Homo sapiens: one gene and its partners. The protein of the gene in region 6 purifies or fractionates together with the protein of the main gene of each other region. This does not show direct contact. Each region holds a gene or a part of one and is shown on either strand. Other genes may lie near its edges. The genes, in order: ZNG1A, HMGCS1, PCDHB11, CSAG1, BPGM and SPANXB1.

What was found.
Region 1: the proteins of SPANXB1 (region 6) and ZNG1A purify together in Homo sapiens (affinity purification with mass spectrometry; one large-scale study listed by BioGRID and IntAct). This does not show direct contact.
Region 2: the proteins of SPANXB1 (region 6) and HMGCS1 purify together in Homo sapiens (affinity purification with mass spectrometry; one large-scale study listed by BioGRID and IntAct). This does not show direct contact.
Region 3: the proteins of SPANXB1 (region 6) and PCDHB11 purify together in Homo sapiens (co-immunoprecipitation; one large-scale study listed by IntAct). This does not show direct contact.
Region 4: the proteins of SPANXB1 (region 6) and CSAG1 purify together in Homo sapiens (tandem affinity purification; one large-scale study listed by IntAct). This does not show direct contact.
Region 5: the proteins of SPANXB1 (region 6) and BPGM purify together in Homo sapiens (affinity purification with mass spectrometry; one large-scale study listed by BioGRID and IntAct). This does not show direct contact.

What each region holds. Positions count from the first base shown.
Region 1 is NC_000009.12:123,579-127,137, forward strand, and holds part of ZNG1A (zinc-regulated GTPase metalloprotein activator 1A), read right to left. Parts: intron 1-3,559. UniProt on the Homo sapiens protein: Zinc chaperone that directly transfers zinc cofactor to target metalloproteins, thereby activating them.
Region 2 is NC_000005.10:43,306,714-43,310,412, forward strand, and holds part of HMGCS1 (hydroxymethylglutaryl-CoA synthase, cytoplasmic), read right to left. Parts: intron 1,132-3,699; exon of another isoform or gene 1,112-1,131; 5' UTR 1,053-1,111; intron 1-1,052. UniProt on the Homo sapiens protein: Catalyzes the condensation of acetyl-CoA with acetoacetyl-CoA to form HMG-CoA, which is converted by HMG-CoA reductase (HMGCR) into mevalonate, a precursor for cholesterol synthesis.
Region 3 is NC_000005.10:141,198,083-141,202,514, forward strand, and holds the start of PCDHB11 (protocadherin beta-11 precursor), read left to right. Parts: upstream 1-1,544; 5' UTR 1,545-1,692; coding exon 1,693-4,086; 3' UTR 4,087-4,432. UniProt on the Homo sapiens protein: Potential calcium-dependent cell-adhesion protein. May be involved in the establishment and maintenance of specific neuronal connections in the brain.
Region 4 is NC_000023.11:152,726,815-152,730,751, forward strand, and holds the end of CSAG1 (chondrosarcoma-associated gene 1 protein), read right to left. Parts: intron 1,411-3,937; coding exon 1,260-1,410; coding exon of another isoform or gene 1,209-1,259; intron 1,050-1,208; coding exon 980-1,049; 3' UTR 670-979; downstream 1-669. UniProt on the Homo sapiens protein: May play an important role in maintaining centrosome integrity during mitosis.
Region 5 is NC_000007.14:134,674,277-134,677,975, reverse strand, and holds part of BPGM (bisphosphoglycerate mutase), read right to left. Parts: intron 1-3,699. UniProt on the Homo sapiens protein: Plays a major role in regulating hemoglobin oxygen affinity by controlling the levels of its allosteric effector 2,3-bisphosphoglycerate (2,3-BPG). Also exhibits mutase (EC 5.4.2.11) activity.
Region 6 is NC_000023.11:141,001,319-141,004,357, reverse strand, and holds SPANXB1 (sperm protein associated with the nucleus on the X chromosome B1), read right to left. Parts: upstream 1,765-3,039; 5' UTR 1,665-1,764; coding exon 1,575-1,664; intron 928-1,574; coding exon 706-927; 3' UTR 652-705; downstream 1-651.

The DNA of each region.
Region 1 (3,559 bases), on a different chromosome or scaffold from region 6:
TATTATACTTTCCTCAGCATATGTGCTGTTTTTTTGGAATTAGCAACTCCATTTCCTACATTCTGCACAGGTACCAATGGATTTAGTATTTACACAAACTACTACCTTGTATTTTAAAAAACTCACTCAAAAACCCTGATGAAGGGGTCCTCATTATTTAATTCATTCTTTCGTGGATTCTCAGCAATAAGAATATATGTAACACATACAATGTACTCACTACACAGGGCCAGGTACTTTTGCCTGAGTCACCTCATTTTATCTTTTGACTTACTCTTCACAACAATCCTGGGGAGTGAAGATAACTATTTCATTTTATAAATTGGGGAAAATAAGGGTCAAAAAAATAAGCTACCCAGAGCCAGGAATAAAACTCAAAACCAAAGTAAATCTGTTCTCTTAAAAAAAAATACAAAAGAAAGGCTTGGCTTATCTTTAACTGAATAAGCATGTGCCAAGAGGAGAAGAGTTCTTAGCGATGAGAATGATAGGATAATGCCCTCTTTGGCTTTAGTAAGGGGGACATCATCATGTATTGAATATTAACTTTAGGATTTATTTTTCTTCTTTATCTTGATAAATCTCTCACTGTCTACCCTAAAGAAACAGAAGCTTAACATTTCCTCTAACAGGTCACCTAATTAAAACCCAAACCTCCCTTTGCCAATATAACCCCAAATTTCAAACTCAGAGATGAAAATACACAAGGGCTAAGCATAACATTATAAAAACATACACCCCACCTTGGAAAATAGAGGCTCAAAAGCCAAGCTCAAAATGAATTTAAAAAGGTAGAAAATAATATACTAAAGCACATCTTTGCATAACTTCCTAGAACTGCATATCTGGCCTAGCAATTTTACTCACCATTACATAATCATACAGGCTTACAGCAGAAAATACAAAAAGACCAAAACTATTTTATAATCCAAACTCAAGAGAATCGCTAAAGTATTAAAGACCAATTTAGGCAGAAACATATGAGACATTTCTTTCTTTCCATAGGTTACTGGGGAACAGGTGGTGTTGGTTAACTTCTTTAGTGGTGATTTGTGAGATTTTGGTACACCCATCACCTGAGCAGTATACACTGCACCCAATTTTTGTCTTTTATTCCTCATCCCCTTCCCACCCTTTCTCCCTGAGTCCCCAAAGTTCATTGTGTCATTCTTATGCCTTTGCATCCTCATAGCTTAGCTCCCACTTATGAGTGAGAACATAGCGATGTTTGGTTTTCCATTCCTGAGTTCTTTCACTTAGAATAATAGTCTCCAATCTTATCCAGGTCACTGCGAATGCCATTAATTCACTCCTTTTTATGGCTGAGGAGTATTCCATTGTATGCATATATATCACAGTTACTTTATCCACGCATTGATTGATGGGCCTTTGGGTTGGTTCCACGTTTTTGCAATTGCCAATTGTGCTGCTATAAACATGCGTGTGCACGTATCTTTTTCGTATAATGACTTCTTTTCCTCTGGGTGGATACCTAGTAGTGGGATTGCTGGACCAAATGGTAGTTCTACTTTTAGTTCTTTAAGGAATCTCCACAGTTTTCCATAGTGGTTGTACTAGTTTACATTCCCACCAGCAGTGTAGAAGTGTTCCGTGTTCACCACATCCATGCCAACATCTACTATTTTTTTGATTTTTTTATTATGGCCATTCTTGCAGAAGTAAGGTGGTATCGCACTGTGGTTTTGATTTGCATTTCCCTGATCATTAGTGATGTTGAGCATTTTTCCATATGTTTATTGGCCATTTGTATATCTTCTTTTAAGAATTGTCTATTCATGTCCTTAGCCCACTTTTTGATGGGACTGCTTTTCTTGCTGATTTGTTGGAGTTCATTGTAGATTCTGGATATTTGTTCTTTTTCAGATGTATATATTATGAAAGATTTTCTCCTTCTCTGTGGGTTGTCTGTTTACTCTGCTGACTGTTCCTTTTGCTGTGCAAAAGTTCTTTAGTTTAATTAAGTCCCAGCTATTTATCTTTGTTTTTATTGCATTTGCTTTTGGGTTCATGAAATCCTTGCCTAAGCCAATGTCTAGAATGATTTTTCCAATGGTATCTTTTAGAATTTTTATAGTTTCAGGTCTTAGATTTAAGTCTTTAATTTATCTTGGGTTGATTTTTGTATACAGTGAGAGAGGAGGATCCAGTTTCATTCTCCTACATGTGGCTAGCCAATTATCCCAGCACCATTTGTTGAAAAGGGTATCCTTTTTCCACTTTATGTTTTTGTTTGCTTTGTTGAAGATCAGTTGGCTGTAAGTATTTATTTCTGGGTTCTCTATTCTGTTCCATTGGTCCATGTGACTATTTTTATAACCGTACCATGCTGTTTTGGTGACTATGGCCTTATAGTATAAGTTTGAAATCAGGTAATGTGATGCCTTCAGATTTGTTCTTTTTGCTTAGTCTTGCTTTGGCTACGCGCATGTGTATGTTAAACCATCCCTGCATCCCTGGTATGAAACCCCTTGATCATGGTGGATTATCTTTTTGATATGTTGTTGGAATCAGTTAGCTAGAATTTTCTTAAGGATTTTAGCATCTATGTTCAAGGATATTGGTCTGTAGTTTTCTTCTTTGGTTATGTCCTTTCCTGGTTTTGGTATTAGGGTGATACTGGCTTCATAGAATGATTTAGGGAGGATTCCTTCTTTCTCTCTCTTGTGGAATAGTGTCTTTAAGACTGGTACCAAGTCTTCTTTGAATATCTGGTGGAATTCTGTTGTGAATCCGTCTAGTCCTGGACATTTTTTTGTTGGTAATTTTTTAATTACCATTTCAATCTCCCTGCTTGTTACTGGTCTGTTCAGGGTAATTCTTCCTGATTTAAGCTAGGAGGGTTGTATCTTTCCAGGAATTTCTCCATCTATTTTAGGTTTTCTAGTTTATGCATGTAAAGGTGTTCATGGTAGCCTTGAATATCTTTTGTATTTCTGTGGTGTCAGTTGTAATATCTCCCGTTTCATTTCTTATTGAGCTTATTTGGATTTTCTCTCTTTTCTTGGCTGATCTTGCTAACGGTCTATCAATTTTATTTATCTTTTCAAAGAACCAGCTTTTTGTTTCATTTATCTTTTGGATTTTTTTTGTTGTTTTGTTTCAATTTCATTTAATTCCGCTCTGATCTCCTTTCTTCTGCTGGGTTTGTTCTTGTTTCTCTAGTTCCTTGAGGTGTGACCGTGGATTGTCTGTGCTCTTTCCGACTTTTTGATGGAGGCGCTCAGGGCCGTGAACCTTCCTCTTAGCACCGCCTCTGCTGTGTCCCAGAGGCTGACAGGTTGGGTCACTCTTGTCGTTCAGTTTGAGGAATTGTTACATTTCCATCTTGATTTCATCTTTGACCCACTGATCATTCAGGAGCAGGTTATTCCATGTATCGGCATGGTTTTGAAGGTTCCTTTTGGAGTTGATTTCCAGTTTTATTCCACTGTGGTCTGACAGAGTGCTTGATATAATTTTAATTTTCTTAAAATTTATTGAGGCTCATTTTGTTGGCTATCACATGGTCTATCTTACAGAAAGTTCATGTGCTGTTGAA
Region 2 (3,699 bases), on a different chromosome or scaffold from region 6:
AAGGAAAATTCAATTTATATTTCAAACTGCCAAGTTTCTCCTCTATTATTTAGGCTTAGCCTCTCTGCATTAAACAAGGAGCTTTTGGAGAGCAGGAACCGTGCTTTGTTCATTTTTGTGTCCCCGGTACCCAACCCACTGTTTGGCATATGGTAGATGCTAATGTTGAATAAATGAAATGGTACTAGACTTCTAATCTAAAGTCATTAACACCCATAGGAAATCATAATCTTGAAATACAAAAAAAGCAGAATTGTAAGAGAAGCACTCCCTGACAATATGAGAAAGCAATGGCTGCAAATAATTAGATTACCAGTTGAAACACATTTGAAATTACTGTCCATTCTCACATAATTTTTTTTTTTTTTTTTTTTTGAGACAGAGTCCCACTCTGTTGCCCAGGCTGGAGTGCAGTGGCGCAATCTCAGCTCACTGCAACCTCCGACTTCTGGGTTCAAGCGATTCTCTTGCCTCAGCCTCCTGAGCTGCTTGACTTACAGGCACCTGCCACCAAGCCTGGCTAATTTTTTTGTATTTTTAGTAGAGACTGGGTTTTACCATGTTGGCCAGGCTGGTCTCAAATTCCTGACCTCAGGTGATCCACCCGCCACAGCCTCCCAAAGTGGTGGGATTACAGACGTGAGCCACTGTGCCTGGCCCATTCTTACATAATTTTAAACATTCATCCACAGCCCAGATACATATCTTTTGAGGCCATAATTTAAAAAGCACTAATGGCAGTCATGTTTACCTCTGATTGTTTCTGATTAAGTAGTCCATGTAATTACATTTTATTATAAGTACTTTTTCTCTTATGAGTGAACACTAATTTTTAAAATTTGTTTCTAGATTTTAAACATTAGTCTAATAAACATAAAATTAGTTTCCTGAAGCATTAAAGCATTAACAGAATTTTAAAGATGAGGTAGAACCCTAAAAGGGGTTTTAAGAACATATGGCACAAACAAATCGTTATTTTCTCTAGGATACCAAGTTTCCTCCTTCCATTAGAGAGGAATACTTTCCTTAAGCAGCATGACAGGATGTCATACCTGTGTGAAGGATAGAGAACTGCAGTCTCCAGGTCTGTCACTGTTTCCTCCTTCGGGCACTAGGAATTTCAAACAAGAACTGCTTTTAAAGTTATAAATCACTACCCAAATTCAAATACTAATGAATCCAATTCAAAGTGAGTTAAAATAAGCAATTCCTTATCCAATTACATTATGCAGAATAGAATTTGACATTTGCTTAGAAAAAATCATACTTAAAGCTTATAGAACATTTTCCCCCTTATTTTCATAGCCCTTATAGTGAAAGGTTCAGTCCTGGTAATAAACGGATATAAGAAGCCTACTATTGCAGGAAGGAATAAACAAAAAAACCTCAAGGAAATAAGAAGCCCATGTCACCAATTGAGGCTTTAAACCAAGGTTTTCAAGAATTGGGGGAAAGGAATATAAACAAGTTGTAATGAGTTAGCAAATTTCTAGAGTAAAGAGATATATGCAGTCAAGAGCCTGCACTGCATGTAACAGATTGTGGCTTTGGCAGCAATTCTGGACCTCAGTTTCCTCATCTATAAAATGAAGCTAATACAGTTGCCCTCCCCAGATCATTGTGAAGGATTGCTGAGATGATAAAATATGTGAAGACACTTTGTAACACAAAGCACCAATACACTGACTATTACCTTAGTTCTTATAGTTCTTATAAGTGTTTTTCAAAGAAAATAAAGGTATTTTTTCTAGCAAGACCTAATCATTTTCAACACTGCCACCTTCACCCTCCCAACCTTTTATAAAGTGATTTTCCCTCTTACTGCTTATGTTAAAAAATTAAGCATTTAGACAAAGGAGCATTAAACATTATTATGTAAATTAAGTAGAAATAATTTGCGAAGGTGACTGGAACATATTCTTCAGTCCATCTGTTTTGAAAGACTGATTGTTACTTGAGATGGCAACTTCTATGTTTAACACAGCATACACCATTTCCTCTGCTCTCTATTTAATTACTGGCAAATTTAGCATCTGCCCTTAATGGATTCACTGGTAACTACATTCGGATGTTATTAATATTTAATAAAGCTTTACTTTTTTTACATAATTACATAATTTAAGAGCTCTTCAGTCGTAGCGCCTTTTACTTCATTAACTAAGTTTACTACCCACCTACGCCCCCCTGCCCCATAAAAAGAAATAGATCTTGAGTTTTGTAGGCAAAGAATACTACAATATTCCAAAAATGTCTCTAATTAACTGTAATTATACATACTTTGAGAAAATAACCTATCTTTGTTCTTTATTATCTCAAATTATGCCTTTGTCTTCTGCAAATTAAGCAGACCACAGAGACCAGTTCTTGAAAAACAAGATTCCTTCTCCATGTTAAGACTACTTAAATAATAATATTTCTTCTTGATGTTCATGTATGTATATGCATTTGACACTACTTGTATCAAGGAAATTTTCCTTGAACTGCCTATATTCTGCCTTTCCTTGCACTGCCTATATTCCCTCAAATTTTTTTTTTTTTTTGAGACAGGGTCTCCCTCTGTCACCCAGACTGGAATGCAGTAGCATTCCAGTCACTGCTCACTGTAACCTCGACCTCCCAGGCTCAAGTGATCCTCCTGTCTCAGACCCCGCAAGTAGCTGGGACTACAGGCACATGCCACAATACACAGCTGATTTTTGTATTTTTTGTAGAGATGGGGTTTTGCCATCTTTCCCAGGCTGTTCTCCAACTCCTGGGCTAAACCAATCCACCCACTTTGGCCTCCCAAAGTGCTGGGATTATAGGCGTGGGCCACCTTGCCTGGGCCCCTCTTTCTATTTTGATTACTTAAATTGGAGAGGGATGTTAGGTGGGAGAGACACAGAGAACAAAGAAGAAACAAATAGAAGATTCAGAAAGGATTGCTGTGCTACTTAAGGATTTCTCTATTCTGGCTAAACCAGTATTGCCAAAGTCTCAAGCAGATCACAAGCTTATTTCTAACAGGTCTTTTCAGAGTAAGTGACAGAGGGAATCAACATGGGTCAAGAAGCAGTTAATGAATGGCAAGTAGCCAGGCAGGTTACCACAAAGCAGGTTTGCAGACTCATGGGATGAAATATAGGCACTTTGAGTCTGGCAAAGACTAAAACACAAGAATGATAAGACTGCCTAGGGCCAACCAGATTTATGCAATGGTAGTTTCTTCTGGAGTTTACTCAGTGTTCTGAATACTTCCTTCTGGCTCCCTCCTTAGCCTTGATTCAAAGAAGTGGTTGGAGAAGTTCATTGCCTACACATTTTGGTATGTAAACTATAAAATATAAACAGTTACCTATTGATCTTTCTCATTGTTACAGGAGATAAATCTAGGAAATTAAGAACAAGTTGGCAACCTTTCCTCCTTAGGAGCAAGCAAGTAAAAACTAATGTTAAGAAAGACTTGCTCAAACCTGTACACTCTGGTATAGTTCTCCAAGTAAAAAGCATGGACATCCCTGCCTCCTCCCAGAGTTACTGGTCTGCGTATCAGAGATTCTACTCATCTTCAAGGCCCTGTTCTAAGTCACCTCTTCCTGGAAGCTTTCCTCGATAAATCACACAGAAAATAAGTTTTCTAATCAGGGACCTGCACTTCTACAGAGGTAGGTCATTCATACCCAAGTCTACATAGCCTACTCTCTATGGAAAACTAGTTAT
Region 3 (4,432 bases), on a different chromosome or scaffold from region 6:
ACTTGACTTCAGCCTTCTTATACACCTGGTTCCTCCAAGTCTGGTACCTACTAGGATTGTGTAGGGAAAACCCAGTAGTTTATTTTTAGTATCTCCAATGAAGGAACTTTATTTTAGACATTTCTTGGAACTATTGTCAATTGCTCTTTCATCTGCTTTCTATCATCAAATAATTTGTGTATTTACTTATGTATTCTTAGTCTTTGTGAATTCATACCTTTTATTACTTTTCTGTCATTTTAGAGAGGGGTTAAGAAGAAGGAAGGATAATTGTATAGTCAATCCACATACTATTCAATTTCTACTCTTCTGCACTGATAATTTTTCAACCATGTATCTAGTTCACATTTTTGTGAATGTAATTTGAAATTAGAATTTTTAAAAGCAGACTTCTTAGATGTCCTCCATTATTGAGAGTACTTTGAGATGTCTAACAGTGGATACCATTGGTAGTTTCCAAGCACCTATTCCAACTATCTCCCTCATTATGCCATGCACTTTGGCTAGGACTGAAACCACCTCAAGTTTAAGGGGCAATCTCTGCCTGGATTAAAACAAAGGGTCAAAGATGGAGTCTTTAGATTCTGGGACTATAATCTCTACCTTTAATCCTATACATCTTGAGACACTGATTTCTTCAGTAACAGGCTGAAGTGCTCTCAGTTGGTCTAATCAGAATGAAGGCTAAGATTTTGTTCTATTATTGAGGAAGAAAATATCTCTCATTCTGTCTTCTTGAGCTGAAAAACAAAGCAGATAGCCATAGATGTTGCTGGAATAAATCTTGGGAAACTGAGGGAGGGCAGTCTTAGAAATAAGCCTGCTTTAAATGAAACTAACATGCTTGTGCTTGTGTATTTATTATTTTTTGAGAAGCTGGAACTAAATCAAGGATTCTCATAATGTGTTCTACTCCCAATATCTTACTTTACTTTCTAGCAGTTCACAATTCCTTGCTACCAAGGAAATCTATATAAATGCCTTCTTGTGCTATCATAACTATCAAAGTATGTCCCATCTCATGGTTAATCCAGTTTCATATCCTCTGAGAGGACTTCTAAAATGACCCATGTATAGTTTGCCTTTTCATTACCACCTAAGGAAAGTCAAGTAGTGATAGAATTTTGTACAGCTTAAAAATATTATGGTTGTTTTATGTTTCCAGTCTTCTCAGAAAGATTACAAACCACTGGGAGCCAGGAATCACATCTTGTATTTCTGTATTCACCACAACTAAGCACGTTTGGTTGTATGGAGAAGGGGGAAAGATAAATGCTTTAAGATGAATATTAACAGCATATCAAACTAAAGAGAATATGAAATAATTATTACAGAACGTGCAATATATTTGTAATCACTTGAACACAATGAATAAAACAATATTTGTTTCCGGAGGACATATAAGTGAATGGAATTTAGGTAGCTTTCACCAAACTGTGAAAATCTATGGAGACACTTGGTGGCGCTGCAGGATAACATCGTGAAAAATATATTCACTGGATGGCGTTGTGAACACTGATATCCAGTGCACACAGAGAATCAGAAGACAGAAACAACAAGCCTTCAAGAGGGTGACCTGGAAACCATTCAACAGGGTTAAAATCCTTAGACCACAGAGGATTTGGTGGACAAGTCAGAGACGCGTTCCGCAGAGCTGAAGCCTTTCTTCAAGAAGCCTACAAGAAAGGAACTATGGAGAACCAAGGGACACGCACTCAGCAGATAAGGCAAGTCCTGCTTCTCTTTGTTTTGCTCGGAATGTCTCAGGCGGGCTCTGAAACCTGGAGCTTTTCTGTGGCAGAAGAAATGCAGAGCGGGAGTTTTGTAGGCAATCTGGCAAAGGACCTGGGGCTGAAGGTGAGAGAACTGTCCTCACGGGGGGCTCGGGTGGTCTCTAATGATAAGAAACAGCGTTTGCAGCTGGACATAAACACTGGGGATTTGCTCTTAAGTGAAACACTAGACAGGGAGGAGCTCTGCGGTTCCATCGAGCCTTGCGTGCTACATTTGCAGGTGTTAATGCAAAACCCCACGCAGTTTTTACAAATTGAGCTTCAGGTCAGGGATATAAATGATCACTCTCCCATCTTCTCGGAAAAACAAATGCTCCTAGAAATCCCAGAGAACAGTCCCGTTGGTGCTGTGTTCTTACTAGAAAGTGCGAAGGATTTAGATGTAGGAATCAATGCTGTAAAAAGCTACACAATAAGCCCCAACTCTCATTTTCACATTAAAATGAGAGTCATTCCAGACAATAGGAAATACCCCGAGTTAGTTCTGGACAAGGCGCTGGATTATGAAGAGCTCCCGGAGCTCAGTTTCATCCTCTCTGCTCTGGATGGTGGGTCCCCTCCCAGGTCTGGAACTGCCTTGGTCAGGGTGGTGGTTGTGGACATTAATGACAACTCCCCTGAATTTGAGCAGGCTTTTTATGAGGTGAAGATTCGGGAGAATAGCATCCTTGGCTCGCTGATTTTGATTGTCTCAGCTTGGGATTTAGACTCTGGAACAAATGGTGAAATATGCTATACCTTTTCCCATGCCTCAGAAGATATTCGCAAGACATTTGAAATTAATCAAAAGTCTGGAGAAATTACTTTAAGAGCACCTCTGGATTTTGAAACGATTGAGTCATACTCAATAATCATTCAAGCCACAGATGGGGGAGGACTTTTTGGAAAATCTACAGTCATAATTCACGTGATAGATGTAAATGACAATGCTCCTGAAATCACTGTGTCATCAATTACCAGTCCAATCCCAGAAAATACGCCAGAGACCGTGGTTATGGTTTTTAGTATCCAAGATATAGACTCTGGGGACAACGGAAGAATTGTTTGTTCCATTCCGGAAGACCTCCCATTCGTGCTAAAATCTTCAGTTGAGAATTACTACACGTTGGAAACAGAGAGACCACTGGACAGAGAGAGCACAGCCGAGTACAATATCACCATCACCGTCACCGACTTGGGGATACCCAGGCTGAAAACCGAGCACAACACAACTGTGTTGGTCTCTGACGTCAATGACAACGCCCCCACCTTCACCCAAACCTCCTACACCCTGTTCGTCCGCGAGAACAACAGCCCCGCCCTGCACATCGGCAGTGTCAGCGCTACAGACAGAGACTCAGGCACCAACGCCCAGGTCAACTACTCGCTACTCCCGCCCCAGGACCTGCACCTGCCCCTCGCCTCCCTGGTCTCCATCAACACAGACAACGGCCACCTGTTCGCCCTCAGGTCGCTGGACTACGAGGCCCTGCAGGCTTTCGACTTCCGCGTGGGCGCCACAGACCGCGGCTCCCCGGCTTTGAGCAGCGAGGCGCTGGTGCGCGTGCTGGTGCTGGACGCCAACGACAACTCGCCCTTCGTGCTGTACCCGCTGCAGAACGGCTCCGCGCCCTGCACCGAGCTGGTGCCCCGGGCGGCCGAGCCGGGCTACCTGGTGACCAAGGTGGTGGCGGTGGACGGCGACTCGGGCCAGAACGCCTGGCTGTCGTACCAGCTGCTCAAGGCCACGGAGCCCGGGCTATTCGGCGTGTGGGCGCACAATGGCGAGGTGCGCACCGCCAGGCTGCTGAGCGAGCGCGACGCGGCCAAGCACAGGCTGGTGGTGCTGGTCAAGGACAATGGCGAGCCTCCGCGCTCGGCCACCGCCACGCTGCAAGTGCTCCTGGTGGACGGCTTCTCCCAGCCCTACCTGCCGCTCCCTGAGGCGGCACCGGCCCAGGCCCAGGCCGACTCGCTCACCGTCTACTTGGTGGTGGCGTTGGCCTCGGTGTCTTCGCTCTTCCTCTTCTCGGTGCTCCTGTTCGTGGCGGTGCGGCTGTGCAGGAGGAGCAGGGCGGCCTCGGTGGGAAGCTGCTCGGTGCCTAAGGGCCCCTTTCCAGGGCATCTGGTGGACGTGAGCGGCACCGGGACCCTTTCCCAGAGCTACCAGTACGAGGTGTGTCTGACGGGAGGTTCCGAGACAAATGAATTCAAGTTCCTAAAACCGGTTATCCCTAATATCCAGGCAAAAGGTCTTGGGAAGAATAGTGAAGAAAACTCCACCTTTCGAAATAGCTTTGGATTTAATTTTTAGTAAGAATGCTATTTACATTTGCATGTACTTTTTTAGTTTTATGTAACCATATCAATATTATTTAGTCTTAAACTAGTTACGTTATTATGCAATACGACTAATTGTATTTTTAATTTTTTCTTTTCTCCCCCAATTTTTTTTTTTTTTTTGAGACCGAGTCTCATTCTGTCGCCCTGGCTGGAGTGCAATGGTGTGATCTCAGCTCACTGCACCCTCCGCCTCTCGGGTTCAAGCAATTCTCCTGCATCAGCCTCCCGAGTAGCTGGCATTACAGGCGCCCACCACCACGCTCGGCTAAATTTTTTTTTTTTTTATCTTTAGTAGAGACGGGGTTTCACCACGTTGG
Region 4 (3,937 bases), about 12 Mb from region 6:
ACTACACATTTGTCAAAACTGTTTAAATTGTTTCTCAGTATTTAGGAGAAAAAGTAAGCAGAAAACCAGGAAGGATATAGATGACCTGAAAAGCACCATTAACTACTCTGACCAATTAAAATAATGAGAAAAGCACTGCATTCAACAACAGCAGAATAAACATTCCTCTCAAGTGTGCATGAAATATTTCCCAGGATAGATGGTATTCTGGGCCATCAAACAAAGCTTACAAATTGAAAAAAAAAATAGAAATAATAAAAAGCCTCTTCTTAGACCATAATATAATTAAATTCAAAACCAAACACCAAGATATCTGAAAAATGCCCAAATATTGGAAATTTTAAAATATGCTCCTAAATAACCTATGGGTCAAAGAGGGAGTCTCAGGAGAATTTTAAAAATACATTAAGTTGAATGAAAATAAAAATATACATACAAAAATGGGATTCAGCTAAAGTGTTTCCTTGAGGGAAATGTATAGCATATTTTATGTTTATATTAGAAAATGAAATCTAAAATCAATAACCAAAACTTTCACCCTAGGAATCCAAAGAACAAAGAGCAATTTGAATTTAAAGAAATTGTAGAGGATCCCCCCATCCCTTCCCACACTCCCACCTCTTCCCCTTAAGCCCTACCCCCAACCTTTGAGACACACAGACACACACATCATTTTACAACATGTTCATTTTATTTCCATCACCATGGGGCATACCCTTTGGGGTGTAAAACGTACTCTACACCCTGTTGGCTATTTATCTGGGGTTAGACTTCTGGAGACTTTTCAGATAGACTTGAAGTCTCTGGCCTTGCCTGGGAATTACTGGCTGCCCAAGGAAGCACTGGAGAAGGCGGTGGTCTCCTTGCCCTTGTGGTCCTGCTATGGCGCATTTTGATTGAGTTCCTCGTTCGGCTGGTCAGAGTGGCTGGATAGTGTTGGCCCACTCCATTCCTCAGGTTTTTTTGAAGCGGTGGTCTTTTAGGGAGAGCCTTTTGTTCCTGGAACTTCCTTGACGGGTCCCTTTTCCCTTCTGGGTTGTCTTGGGAACCTGGAAAGCCAACAGGGAGATCACAGGAGGGCACTGGTTTGGGGAAGAGGATGGAGGAGGGGTGAGAACAGGGGTTTCATAGAGAAATGGTACAGGCTGGGGTGGGGGTTGTGCCAGGGGAGGACAGGGTAGGAGTCAGAGCTTGGGTGGGCCATTCACTTTGATAGGGCTTCTGGGCCAGGGATGAGAGGATGCTTTCCCCTTCCTCGCCTCTTTGGTGTTGATGGGTGGTTGTTGGAAAATGGGCTGGAGGCTCGTGGTTTCCTGGACATCTTCACCAGACCAGTGTCTCTGTACAGTCTACTCCAGTCCACCTGGTCTCCCCGAGCTTCCCCCAGGACAGTGAAGGCAGGCCAGCAGGCTAGAAACTCACACGACATTATTATGTTAGTCTTGTGGTAGAATTCCTTTTCCAAGAAACCTTGGTCTTTTAACACCTTCAACTAATTGGATGAGGCCTATCCACATTATGGAAGTTAAATTGCTTTACTTAAAGTCAACTGATTGTAAATGTTGATCACATCTACAAAATACCTTCACAGCAACATCTAGACTACTGTTTGACCACACAGCTGAGCAGTATAGCCTAGACAAGTTGACACATAATACTAGCCACTGCAAATATCTTGCACCGTACAAAAATGTGACTCAAAATGAACCGCAATCTTAAATGCCAAAATTACGGGCTTTTTTTCTAGGAGGAAACAAAAAAAAATTGTGTTACCTGAGGTTATGTACTAGTCAGCTCAGGCTAGAATAACAAAATGTCATTGACTGAGTAGCTGGAACAACAGAAATTTATCTTTTTTCACAGTTTTGAAGTCTGGAAGTCCCAGATCAAGGACTGGCGGGGTTGGCTTCTGGTGATGGCCTTATTCCTGGCTTGTAGATGGCCCTTTCTCAATATGTCCATTCTTGGCCCTTCCTCTGTGCATGTGCAGAGAGCGCGCGAGAGAGACAGCGAGCTCATGCAGGCACAAAAATGCTATCTTCTGTCTCTTCTCCCTTCTTATAACCACACTAATTCTATGGGATCAAGGCCCCACCCTTATGACCTCTTTTAACATTAATCACTTCCTTAGAAGCCTCATCACCAAATACAGACACCCTGGGGCTGAGGGCTTCAAAATATGAATTTGGTGGAGGACATAAGCATTAGCAAAGAATAGACACATAGGTTAATAAAACAGAATAGAGCTCAGAAATAGACCTGCACACATATAGTCAGGTGATTCACAACAAAGGCAATAATGGTGAAAGTACAGGTTTTCCAACAAAAGGTGTCGGAACAATTAGACACCTATACACAAATTATAATAACCTGGACATATCCTTACATATTCCATGAAAACTAACTCAAGATACATCATAGGTCTAATGAAAAATGCAAAAACAATACAACCTCTATAAGAAAACATGAGAGAAATCCACATAACTTTGAGTTTGGAGATGAGTTTTTAAATTCAACACCAAAAGCATGATCAAGGAAAGAAAAATTTGCCAAGTTGATTTTATTAAAATAAACATCATGTGCTCTTCAAAAGACAATGTTAAGAGAATGAAAACAGAAGCCACAGACTAGCAGAAAACATCTGCGGTACACATATGTGATAAAGAACTTGTCTCTACAATATATGCGAATTCTTAAAGCTCAGCGATAGAAAAAAATGAAAATAGTCAAAGATCTGAACACACACTACACAAAAGAAGATACACACATGGCAAATAAGCATAATAAATGTACTAAGCGTGTTTTGTCATTAGATAATTGTGTACTAAAATGAGATACCACTACACACCTATTAGTATGTCCAAAATCCATAAAAAAGCAAAACAAAGCAAACAAAACCAAGACCAATTGCCAGGGAAGATGTGGAGCAACAGAAACTCTCATTCATAGCTCGTGGAAATGCAACATGGCACAGCCACTTTGGAAGACAATTTGGCGTTTTCTTAAAAAACGGAACATAGACTTAGCGTAAGATTCAGCAGCCATACTCAATCAATTTACCCAATTGATTTGAAAACTTATGTCTACATAAAAATTTGTATATGAATGTATACAATAGCTTATTTCACAATCACCAAAAATAGCAGCATCCAAAATGTATTTCATTTGGTGAATGGATTATATATATATATATATACACACATACACACACACACGCATTAAAATATGGTACACCCAATGATACTACTACTCCTCAATGAAAAGGAATAAGTTACAAGCTGCACAAAGTTTTACATGACTCTTCAGTTCATTATGCTAAACGAGTCTAAAGAAACGAGTCTAGAAAGAAACGAGTCTAAAAAGGCTACATAGTATACGAGTCTATTTATATGACATTCAGGAAAAGGCAAAATTATAAAGATGAAAAACCTATCAGTGGCAGCCAAGGGGGTTATCTGACAAGCACAGGGGATTTATCAGGGCAGTGAAACTAGTATGGTAATACTGTAATGGTGGTTCCGTGCTTGCTTTCATCTGAATATTTGTGTTCCCACAAACTTCATCTGCTGAAATACCAAGGTGATGGTATTAGGTAGAAGGTGGGGTATTTGGAGAATGACTAGTTCATGAGAGCAGAGACCTCATGAATGGGATCAGTGTTTTTATAAAATAGTCCCCACAGAGATCCCTTGCCCCTTCCTCCATGCGAGGACATAGGGAAAAGGCAGGTGTCTAGGAACTAGGGAGCAGGACTCCACCAGACATGAAATCTGCCAGCACCTTGATCTTGGACTTTCCAACCTCCAGAATGTGAGAAATAAAGTTGTGTTGTTTATAAGCCACCTAGTCTACACTATTTTTGTTATGGAAGCCCAAACGGACTAAGACAATGGCAAGAGGCATTTGTCAAAACCCATAGATCTTTACAGCACAAAGA
Region 5 (3,699 bases), on a different chromosome or scaffold from region 6:
TCTCCATGTAACAAGTTCTGGCACAGAGAGGTTAAGTAAACAATTATCACACAGAGAGTAAATGACAGAGCCTGGATTCAAACCTAGGGGTCTGTACCCACTGTATAATGTAACTCCTCTCAAGTTTCTGAGTTCAAAGTGAGCAAAGGGAAGGCATGAGAAAGAGATGAAGTTCAGCAAGCTAAAAGACAACTGAAAGTATTCAAATTATCTACTTTAAAAACACTCCTTTATTAATCACATAGACTTCTAAATTCTAACTATATGCTTCCTGTTCTATATTAACAGAAAGGACCTAGGTGAAACAAGTTCAGGGGAGTCCAAGGGTTTGTCTTTACTTGAGAGTGGCAGAATAAGTTGTTATTGGTTAGTAATCAATGCACCTTTTCATTTTAATTAGCCATTGATCCTAACTGTGAGCACCAGCCAAACAGTCACAGAATCGTAGCACTGGATGCTTACTGCTGGGGTGGCTCTTTATTAGAATTTCACGTCAAGGCCTAGAAGAGCTCCCTAATAACTCTTATACACAAACTATCCATACTCAAACAACTATGAAAAATGGAAAGGATCTTAACTCAGAAGACACAGTCTCTTCCAAGTAAGTGTACTGTCCCATCACCTGCCCTGCCAGTACCCCTTCAATGTAATACAGAATTTTAGGCAAGTAACTTCTCTGGACCTCCAATTCTCCTGTCAATTAAAAAAGAAAGAAAGAAAGAAAAGAAACACACACTCTTCCTTTGCCAGCATTTTAAAGGGTTGTGGGATAAAAGGGGTGGCTTAAAAGAGAACATACATGAACAAAGGGTAGCACAATAAGTGTCTCTTCTTTCTCTATTAGGAATTCCCTTCTAGGTAGCAGATTTAATGGGAAGGCTACTAAGATACTCCTTTGCCCTGCCAAGCCCCACCCTCACACTGCAACCTTAGAGAAGATTACCATCACAAACTACAGCTGCTGAGAACAAATCTACTCAGACCAGACCTCTAGCTGTTTAGCAGGGAGATGACTACTCTAGATTCTAAACACCTTCTGGCTTCAACAGGCCAGAAATGTCAGCTAGCCGCACAACAGCCACCACAAACATCCCTTGGAAAGAGCAGGAGGGGAAGTCAACAGCCTGTTGTTTGGAGTCAGGTGACCACTGAGCCTTTCAAATCCAACAGTGCTCACTCCCAAATCCAGGGGAAGCTCTGGAGGTCTCCAAACCTAACTCATTCACTAACTAGTAACTGAGGGCCCTTTATATTCCTAGTACTCTGTGGAAGAACATGTGTGAGTGACCTTGGCCAAGATTTTACCTCCAATGAACTATTTTTTCATTTATAAAATAAGTCCCTCTAGCACCAACATTCCTGTATTTTATTCTTAATGGTTAAGAAAAGCAGAGGCACCTTAGAGACACAAGAGCATGAGTACACTGAGTACTGTTTACATTCATCTACTGTGCAAGGACCATGCTTTATCTGTTTCCAGAGTCTGTAAGCATATTGCTCACTAAATTGGAGAGAAAAATGGATTTTATAGATTTCTCCAAATAATCTAAATTTTCACTATAAAAAATTAATTTGTTAAAAGATAACAAAAGTGACCATGTTTGACTAAAGCTTACCAGAAGTAGAAACTATGAGTGTATATATCTATCAGCATCTTGGATTCACCACTCATAGATGTGTGCCTTTGCAGTGTCACCAACTATTAATCTTAAGTTCTTGAACCTAGGACTTTATTGTAGAATGACTGAACATTCTACTTCTATTCAACATTGTATTTAAGATCCTAGCTAGGGCAACTAGGCAAGACAATGAAATAAAAGGCACCCAGATTGGAAAGGAAGAAGTAAAACTATCTCTATTTGCAGATGGTATGATCCCACCAAAAACCTGTTAGAACTAATAAACTCAGCAAGGCTGCAGATATAAGAACAATACAGAAAAGGAAATTGGGTTTTTAATACAGTAGCAATAAGCAACATGAAAGATTAAGCAAACAATTCTATTTATAATAACATCAAAAAGAATAAAATGCTAAAAATAAATTTAACCTAAGAAGTACAAAACTATACTCTGACTACTACAACACAGTGTTCAAATGAAAGAAAACCTAAATATGTATTTATGGATTAGAAGACATAACACTGTTAAGAGGGCAATATTTCCTAAATTAACATACAGATTCAATACAATCCTATCAAAAATCTCAATGGACTTTTTTGTATAAATTGACAAACTGATCTTAAAGTTCATATGGAAATCTAAGGTACTCAGAATAGCCAAAACAATCTTGAAAAAGAAGAAATAAACCAAGGGACTCATAGTTCCTGATTTCAAAACTTACTACAAAGCTATAGTAATCAAGATACACACAGATCAATGAAATAGAATTGGGAACCCAAAATAAACCCTCATATTTTTTATCAATTGATTTCCAACAAGTGTGCCAAGACAATGAAATGCAGAAACAATAATCTTTTCAACAAATAGTACTGGGATAACTGTATATCCATATGTGAAAGAATGAAGTTGGACCCCTGACTCATACTTTATATAAAAATTAACTCAAAATGAATCAAAGACTTAGAGTCAAGAGCTAAAATTGTAAAAATTTTTAGAAAAAAAGCCATAGGAGTAAAGTCTTCATCACCTTGAGTTAATTAATGGTTTCTCAGATATGACACCAAAAGCATACACAAGAAAAAAATAAACTGGGTATATAAAAATTAAAAATGTTTGTGCTTCAAAGGACACTATTAAGAACATAAAAAGGCAACCCAGAGAATGGGAGAAAAATTTGTATATCATATATAGTCTAGATACAAGTTCCTTATCAGATATAAGAACTGTCTCCAATAATAAAAAGACAAATGATCAAATTTAAAAATGGGCAAAAGGTTTAAACAGCCATTTCTCCAAAGATATACAAAAGGTCAATAAGTACATAAAAATAGGCTTAATATTACTAGCTATCAAGGAAATGCAAATCAAAACCACAATGAGATACTACTTTGTACCCTCTAGGATGGCAACAATAAAAAGTCAGATTATAAACAAGTGTGAATAAGGATGTGGAGAAACTGGAATCATAATACACTGTAAAATCAGGTATGCAAAAGGCTATAGCCTCTTTCGAAAACAGTCTGGCAATTCCTTTTGTTAAACACAGATCTACCATATGACCCAGCAATTCCACTACTAAGCATATACCCAAGAGAAGTGAAATATGAGTCTATACAAAACTTGTACACAAACCTTCATAGCAGCATTACTCATAATAGTCAAAAAGTGAACACAACACAAATGTCCATTAACTAATGAACAGATAAATTAAATGTGGTATATCCATACAATAGAATATTATTTGGCAATGAAAAGGAATGAAGTACTGAACCAAACCACAACAAGGTTCTTGGATGAATCTTGAAAGCATGATGCTACTAAATAAAAGAAGCCAGTCACAAAGGACCACTTACTGCATAAGTCCATTTACATGAAATGTCCACAACAGGTGAATCTATAGTGACACAAAGTAGATTAGTTGTTGCCCAGGGCTGGGTGGAATAGGGGAGGAACTGGGGGGGTGATAACAGCTAAGGGGCACTGGGTTTCTTTTTAGGGTAGTGAAAATGTTCCAACATTGATTGTGGTAATGGATTTACAATTTTGTGAATACACTAAAAGCCATTTAATTGTATACTT
Region 6 (3,039 bases):
CACCTTGCAGTTCACATTCCATGGAAAAAAGCTCCTCATACTTAAGAGTGTTTTACTTTCCTTTTCCCAAGTCGTGGCGATTTTGACTATTCACACTTGCGGATATCAACACATTTCTAAAGCATGCTTATCTTGATTAAACACTGCTGAGGTTATTAAAACAGTAACATAAATATTTAAGATGCAGTGTACATTTTGTTTTAAAATTTGGCTTTTCAATCATTTCATTACATGCAATGCTTTCCTGCCGTTTACTTACTCCTACATCTACTATCTTCTTTTGTATTGTGCTTTGTGTTTTACAGAACATTTACGCTTTATAAAGCATATATTTCTAACCTAGGAAAATATCAAATGGAAAGGGGATGGGAATACCTTTGATATGTCCATTCAGCAGAACTATGTGCTGCCGGGTACAGTTGCGTGAACATATACACATCTCCACTTCCTGTGAGATAAAATTTTAAGAAGAAAATTTTCTTTAGGAATCAGTCCTCCCCCAGGCCTTATTTACAATGTCTGGCTTACTGTCAACCTGTGGGTCTGTCCACCAACCCTACAGGACCTCATATCCCTCCCTTCTCAAATGCCTACCTCTTCCCTTCCCTTCACCCCCCACCATCAGAAAACAGGCAGAGATATACACAGCCATCAGCTTCTCAAACTTTATTTTCATTGCCGAAGTTTGAGGGATGTAGCTTCTTGCTACTTTTTAGGTCTTTCAGTCGTTATTTCTATGAATTCCTCCTCCTCCATTTGGTCGGGGTTGATTCTGTTCTCTCGGGCGTGGTCATTCAGCAGTTCCTCTGGAGATGTTCTTTTCACGTTCCTCCTGTAGCGAACCACTAGTATGGTCGAGGACTCAGATGTTTTCATTTTTTTAGGAGCAGGTTGCGGGTCTGAGTCCCCAGTTGGGGTCTCCGGCATCTGTTAAGAAAACAGGGAGAGGCCAGGAGGACATTATTTTGGGTGAACAGGATAGAGACTGGATAGCAAGGGGGCTTCATGAGAAGAAGGAATGCAGGTTGAGGAAGGGGTTTGATCCAGAGAAGAAGAAGGTTGAAGCACAGAGTAGGGATCTATGGGGAAGAAGAAGAGGAGCGTGGGTAGGGTCACCTGTGAGTCCAAACTGCACCATTTTGTCAGTTCTTTGCTATTTTGCAGACCTTGGTCAAAGTGAAACATCCCATGGGGGTTCAGGCCGTGAGAAACATCCTGCCTAACCACCTGTCCGCAAGGCGGACAAAGGCCCAACTGAAGAAACATCCCTATCATATCTTGCTTGGCAGCGTTCTAAGGAACACCACAATGATATTCCACCAGAAAAAGGGCCAAACCACCTGATCATAAGAACATCTTATCAATATCCTGCCGGGCAGCAAGCCATACTGCCCAGGCCCCTCCCACCCCTACCTACAAGCACCCCAGGTTGTAAGCGGCGGTGGGCTCTGGCATTAAGCGGGCCCCCCACTTCCACAATGGTCTGCAATATTCCTGTGTTGTTGTTTGAGCCGCCCCCGCTCTGTGTGTCTTTCTTTCACCCTCGCCTTCACTTCAGAACCTAACAATCTTACCGTCTTGTTGGCCTCATTGGCCTCGTTGGCCTCGTTGGATTCACAGGGGACGCTCCTCTTCAGCCTGCGGACACTGGATTGTTGGCCCATTGTATATATTGGTTCTTCGATGTCTACAGTAGGTTTTTGGAGCTTTTGAATCTTCGCAGTGGCCCAGAGCTCTTGCCCTCCCTATGCATACCCTCCTGGTGACAAGGCAAAGCCACACCCTTGAGCTTTGTTTGATCATACAGGCAGTGTCCCAGCCAATGGCAGCCCTAGGGTGGCTTCGACGTCACAAAGCCCCACTGCTGACCACTCCCTGGGCTTGCGGGCGAGGGGTGACAGGGGTGTAGAGCAAACCAAATGCTGTTGTTGTTTCAGCATCCCCTGAAGATGCATCCCAAACCGATCTGCCGCCGCTCCTCATTTCTCCATGTTTAATGTTCACGGTTCACATGGAAGTCAGAGGATGATTCCTTCAAGCCCTTCCCCACAGCCATTCCTATTAAGTGATTCATTCTTTTGTCTTCCAGCCCTCACCATGACTTAGTATTTTCGATGTCTCACCTCAAATCCCCCACGCTAGTGTGGCTACATTTATTTATTGGCGGAGATGTGAATTATCCCATTTCCCTCCTACAGTTCCTTCACATGCACCTCGAAGACCATTTACTTTTGGGCTACTGCCAGGCAAATTTCAACCCATGTTCTTTTACCCAATGTCCATGTAGTTCTTTTAAGTTTCCTATCTCCAATCTGAAATAATGGCCTTCAGTCTGTCAAAACTTTAGTGAATAAACATTCTTTACCGTGTATCCTAGTCTTGTTTCAAATCAGGGGTGTATATTTTTTTCTTTTTTTCAAATGGAGTTTCACTGTTGTTGCCCAGGCTGGAGTGCAGTGGCATGATCTCAGCTCACTGCAACCTCTGCCTCCTGGGTTTAAGTGATTCTCTGGCTCAGCCTCCTGAGTAGCTGGGATTACAGGCCTGTGCCACCACGCCCGGCTAATTTTTGTATTTTTAGGAGAGACGGGGTCTCACCATCTTGGCCAAGCTGGTCTTGAACTCCTGACCTCGTGATCCACCTGCCTTGGCCTCCAAAGTGCTGGGATTACAGGCGTGAGCCACCACACCCAGCCAGGACGGCCATTATTAAAACCACCATTGACAAGTAAATTTTGGTTACTTCTGTAGCATACAAGAATTTAACATAAAAGTTATAATTAATAACATACACAAGTTATTTCAGAAGTATAAGAGTTTCCCATAATTTTGGAGCACATATCAATGACATTTCTATAAATACAGCCCAAAGAAAGTCAAACACCATTTTATATTTGATGATGCTTCTTGTATGATTTTTATACCAAATAAGACCAATATGTCTCTTTTGGACTTCAGAGGACTCATATCAAAAAATTAATGAGGAATGAAGTTAGAATTTGACTTTGGAAAGTTCGTCAAAGATAAAAAGTTTAAAAT